Linked DNA regions of Homo sapiens: region 2 is linked to region 1. Evidence: fine-mapped expression QTL. A gene starts in region 1. The other region holds a variant in brackets. All regions are shown on one strand. Distances are between the middles of the regions.

Evidence for each region. PIP is the estimated chance that this variant, and not a neighbour inherited with it, causes the effect. A credible set is the group of variants that fine-mapping cannot tell apart.
Region 2: its variant is the best candidate, but not a certain one, in a credible set for the expression of SPATS2 in thyroid (GTEx, PIP 0.63).

What each region holds. Positions count from the first base shown.
Region 1 is chr12:49,366,131-49,369,043 of GRCh38, forward strand. It overlaps SPATS2 (spermatogenesis associated serine rich 2), which reads left to right and starts at 1,332. Exons shown (of 14, transcript NM_023071.4): 1 at 1,332-1,457. RefSeq lists an enhancer at 412-671 and silencers at 962-1,441, 1,462-1,511, 1,542-1,611.
Region 2 is chr12:49,505,133-49,508,045 of GRCh38, forward strand. All of the region lies in intron 9 of SPATS2 (spermatogenesis associated serine rich 2), which reads left to right. Among named protein-coding and RNA genes, the nearest start is that of KCNH3, 32 kb to the right of the region's middle. The variant A/AG (reference allele first, on the strand shown) is at 1,191.

The DNA of each region.
Region 1 (2,913 bases):
CACCACATCCGGCTAATTTTTGTATTTTTTGTAGAGACGGGGTTTCACTATGTTAGCCAGGCTGGTCTCGAACTCCTGACCTCAAGTCATCCGCCCGCCTCGGCCTCTCAGAAGTGCTGGGATTACAGACGTGAGCCACCGCGCCCGGCCCCAGATTCTAATAAATATTTTCAATGCTGACTGTCTAAATCCCTCTGGCCCCTCTTAATAGACCCCTGACCAGTCGACACTGAGGTAAGTGCTTTATGCATGCAGAAAGGGTGCACAAATACTAGTTAGTTCCAGCACCAGGGAGGTTGGGAGTCTGGCGTCGAAGAGAGTATTTAACAGAAAAGATTCGAAGGGCGGCGGGACCGACCACCGCCGCGTAGAGGGGCTATGCTGACAGCTGGGTAGATCAGAAACCCGACTGACGATCCCGAGGTCATTCTTCCCGCGCCCCCACCGGCCTCTGCGCTCTCTCAGGAGGCAGAGCGACCGCGCGGTCCGGAGGCCCCAGCGTTTCCCGTCGTTGGCGACTCTGAAATTGCCTTTTGGAACAAAACTTGGGTCGGGAAGGAGGCGAAGGGGAAAGCGGTGTGAAGTCCTCGGTACGGAAGAGTGAGCGGCGCTGTACCCGGCGGCCAGAGAAAAAGCTTCCCAACCCGGACATTGAGCAAAAGCCCCGCGCTCGACTCCCCTAGCGGCGCCCGCGTTCGGCCACCTCCGGGGGAGTTTCGGCTCTTTCCGTCAGTTCAGCTCGGGCCCTCCGTTCCCGGCGCGCGCCGGGTCCCTAACCGATGCCGCCGGGTACGAGCTGTGCTGCACGCGGACGCGAGCTCGCGTCCCACCCGTTTTCCCCTTCCATCTACTTTGTCCCCAACCCTCTCCCCGAGTCTCTTCCTTTCCCCGGTAATTCCCAGTCTCCGGTGGCGCGCGAGCCTGCGGACGGTGCGAGACGCGAGGGACCGGGCCCCGAGAAGAGCGGTAACCCGACTGGTCGGAGCCCGCCTCTCGCCGCCCCGCGCCTCTCCCCGATCTTCTCGGTCTCCGGTGCGCGGGCCGTCTCGCCGCTCGAGCCGCGCTCGCGCACCCGTTGGCTGCCACAGCCTCGAGCTTGGCGCGCCGGATTCGCGCCGGCGCGAGTACGCGCCCTGAGCTCTGGCTGGCTGGCTGGCGCGCACGCGCCCGAGAGGGCTCCGGGGCGGGGCGAGCCGCTGCCTGGGCGAGGGTCGGGGTGATCTGCTGGATCTCCGGCAGCATCCTGCAGTCCGGCCCAGGAGAGAAGTGGGGAGGCGGCGGTGGGGGCGGGGCGGCGTCCGGCTCTGAGAGAGCTGGGGGAGGAGCGCGGCGGCGACGGCGGCGGTGGCTCTAGAAGGGGAGGTGGAGGATCTCCTTTCCTCTTCTCAGACCCGGGAGCGTCCGGGACGCGGAGCCCGGAGCTGGGGCGACGAGGCGATTGCGGGGGCCTGGGCTAGGTGAGGCTAAGGGTGCTGGGTGGCGGGGTTGGCGGGGGCTCAGAGGGCGCCGAGGTGCGGGGAGCGGGTTGAGGGAGGAAAAAGAGGGAGGGGGTAGTTGGGGGCGGGGGGACGGGAAGGAGGGGGATGTGAGCCCTTAGAGGCCCGAAGTGCCCAGAGGGTGGAAGGTTCCTGGGGTCTGTGGGGCGGGTGAAACACCCGCGTCGGAGTTGGGGAGTTTCCAGACGGATAGGCCGGGGAAACAATGGAGTGTGGGGGGGACTCTGGCGTGAGCGTGTGTGGGGTATTGGATTTTAAGAAACAACGAGCGAGATAGAACGAAAGAATAGGATCATTTGGGATGAGAAGTACAATGAATTAGGAATGCAGTAGGGATGCGTAAGGTCACCTCCGTGGCTGTGCGAGGTCCTTAGCATTCGGGGGCAATAATGAGATTTGAAAATAAGGGAGAGAAGGGCGTTCTTGGAATTGAAGGGGGAGACGAAATGGAAAATCAGGCGAACAGACGCAGAGACATAAAATAGATGTGGTTAGGACTTGGATTAAAGCAGAAAGGTAGATTCAGTCAGTTTTGGACTACAGTGATATTTTTCTCATAATTCATCCAGAATGATTAGGTTCTTTTAGAAAGTGGATCTTTCTCAAGCTTGTCCCTCTGTTAAGGAGTACAAGCCGTTCTTTAAATAATTTGATTATCGCTTGTCCATTTTATTGATAAAACATGCCTGTGATATTTACTTCCCCTCTGTTTAGCAGGCTACTGTTCCTAATTTACCTACGGTTAATGAAGCAGGAGAGGACAGATCACCAAAAATATCTTGCTTTAAGTTAGGTCAGTGATAATGCAGATTTCAGTGTTTTGGAGAGAACCAAAAGCTTGGTTGTTTGTTTTCAGTTTGACCAAAAGGTGATGGATAAAATTAAGTTACCTGTACTTTGTTAGAATTGCAATTTCTCACTGAGAAATGTTCTTGTGCCATCTGCTACTGGTTTTGTGTTTGTGGGAGAGAGTTGGGGTTCTGCCTTAAATTATTTCTTGATGTTAACTTCAAATAGGCTGCCTCATACCTTCCAGTTTCAATTAAGGTGATTTGGGAATATTGATTATGATGTTTGCATTTCCTTAATATTTGGATTTCCAGACCAAATTTGTGATTGTACTAGATAGAAAATTGCCGATTTTGAAATTGTAATGACCATTGTGTGCTCCTAAGTAGTCCATGTTAAGCCTTTTATTTGTTGGGCATTAAGTTTTGCTGACTCATCTAAGATTTATGGACATTAATCAGTTTGTATTTCTCAGCTAGGTCTTGGATGGTAGCATTTAGGTTACTTTACAAAGGTCCAAAAATAATGATTTAAATTGTTACTTTTCTTAGATGTTATGAAAATTGAACAAAGCAAGAAATGAGTGCAGTGTTCTCATTAGTGACAATGTGCCTCTTTTTTTTTTTTT
Region 2 (2,913 bases), 140 kb after region 1:
GGCCACATATAGATGCTGAAAACTTAGGAATCATTTTATGAACCAAACTACCTGCAAAATATTATCTCCAAAAATATCTAAAATGTGTAGAAATAAAGGAATGTGCTAATGTAATATGTATTATCAAAAATGTACATAGCACTGTAGTTCTAAATCATTCTTTGGTTTTTGAAGCTTAGTTTGTTGATATCTTGTTTCTACTAGTACTTGACACCATGGTTCTTGATATTTTTTTATTTAAAATTTAACTCTAACCATCTGTGAAAATAATTACAGGTTGAGTATCCCTTATCTGAAATGCTTAGGACTAGAAATGTTTTAGGTTTTTTATTTTTATTTTTTTCAGATTTTGGAATGTCTGCAGAAACTAGTTGAGCATCCCTAATCTAAAAATTCAAAATCCAAACTGCTCCAATGAGTATTTTCTTTCAGTGTCATGTCAGTGCTCAAAAAAGTACAGCTTTTGAAGCATTTTGGATTAGGAATGCTCAACCAGTAATAACATATGAAGAATATTTTACTGAACATGTTCAGTTATATTATTGGATTTTTTTAATCCTGATTTCTTTTCCACAAAGTAGGTATTGTTAATTCTGTTTTACTGAAAATAAATGTATGTCTTAGGTTAAGCAATTTGCCTAAGTTGCAGATCCAATATTTGAATGTATATATTCAGACTTATTAACCTATGATTTTCATCTCATACCTCATTGATGGCTCACTTCCCCACTAAAGCTTGGCAAGGCTAGAGACTGTTGGTACATGTCATATTACAGACAGTTCCCTACTTATGATGGTTCAACTTAATAATTTTCCAACTTTATGATGGTATGAAAGTGATACACATTCAGTAGAAAGCATACTTTGTATACCCATACAACCATTTTGTTTTTCACTTTTAGTGTAGTGTTTAATAAATTACATCAGATATTCAACACTTCATTATAAAATAGGTGTTGTGTTAGATGACTTTGCCCAACTGCAGGCTAATATAAATGTTCTGAGCATGTTTAAGGTAGGCTAGGCTAAGCTTTGATGTTCAATAGGTTAGGTATATTAAATGCATTATCAACTTAAGATATTTTCAATTTGCACATGCCTGTAATCCCAGCACTTCGGGAGGCTGTATTCGTCTGTTCTCACACTGCTAATAAAGACATACTCAAGACTGGGTAATTTATCAAGGAAAG[A/AG]GTTTAATTGACTCACACTTCTACGTGGCTGGGAAGGCCTCACAATCATAGCTGAAGGCAAAGGAGGAGCAAAGTCACATCTTACATGGTGGCAGCCAAGAGAGCTTGTGCAAGGGAACTCTCATTTATAAAACCATCAGCTCTTTTGAGACCTACTACCACAAAAACAGTATGGGGGAACCACCCCTATGATTCAGTTATCTTCACCTGGCCCCACCCTTGACACTTGGCGATTATTACAGTTGAAGGTGAGATTTGGGTGGGGACACAGCCAAACCATATCAGAGGCCAAGGCAGGAGGATTACTTGAGTCCAGGAGTTCAAGACCAGCCTAGGCAACATAATGAGATCCCGTCTTTACAGAAAGTAACAAAATTAACTGGGCGCAATGACACGTGCCCATAGTCCAGCTACTCAAGAGGATCGCTTGAACCCAGGAAGTGGAGGCTGCAGTGGGCCATGATCTTGCCACTGTACTCCCACGCTGGGTGACAGAGCAAGACCCTGTCTCTTTAAAAAAAAAAAAAAAAATTTCGATTTACAGTGGGTTTATTGGGACATAACCCCATTGTAAGCCGAGGAGCATCTGTATTGTTTCCTCTTCAGCTTAAAGGCTATGTAACAGAGAAACCCCAATGTAGGAGAATTTAGGGACTAAGGAACTTAGTCATTATGAAACAGGTTAGGATGAGAAGCACCAGGATTTAGGCTGAGCCTATGAAAGTATTTTCTAAGTTCAATAAAGTAAAACTATAAGAATACTCCATCTGAATATTCAATGTTCTTTTGATTTTGTGATTCAGAAGGTCCTAAATCACTATTATTCTTAAGTCACAACTTGTAGTGCCTTGTGATTCTGGGATTCTTCAGGTCAGATCAGAGTAGCGGGAAAGGTTTTAAGATTAAAGGCAGGGCCACTGTGGGGTGGGGTTAATTAGAAAATATTTCTTTGGGGAAATGAATCATTATCAAGCTATGTAAAAAGCATGGTATTTACACTGGCGGAAAGGTTGGGGTGGACCACTGCATTTCAGAGATATGAGCAGAGGCATAGAAGGGACACGTAGGGACCACACACAGTCTAGCTGTTGCTATGGGGCAATAGTGAAAGTAGCGAGGGATGAAGTCAGAGGCTGAGGTATAATGAGAGCATTTGATGGAGGGATCTGAATTTTGTTTTTCCTTTTTTTAAAGATTTCATTATTCCCTCTTACTTTTACTATATTGCCCATAATTATAATCGTTTTATTAGATATAAGTAAAACTCAAAATTCTACCACCTTAACACATAAGTAATTTTTATTTCCTGCGTTCCCTTGTGTTCCTTATGTATATTCATACATATTCTTGAATAGTTGTAATCGCAGTGAGAGTGTAATTTCAATGTGATCTTTTCACTTAAAATTAGTTTGATTCATCACTTCATAACTGCCTACACTGTGTTAGTGTGCGTACATGTTTATTTAATAATTTCTGTACAATGAATCTGGAATGTATAATGATTTACCGGTTAATACGATTGCATTTTACTAAAGAGATATTCTGCTGAAACTGAGAAATCAAGATGAATACAAGAATTAAAATAATAATTGCTGCCGCTATTTACTGAGCTCAATTACTAAGCTTTTATTGTATGTCAGAAACTTTTATGTACAGTGCTTCTAATCTATATAACATTATCACTTGTGGTATTACGTTCATGTTATAGGTGAGAAAGATGGGC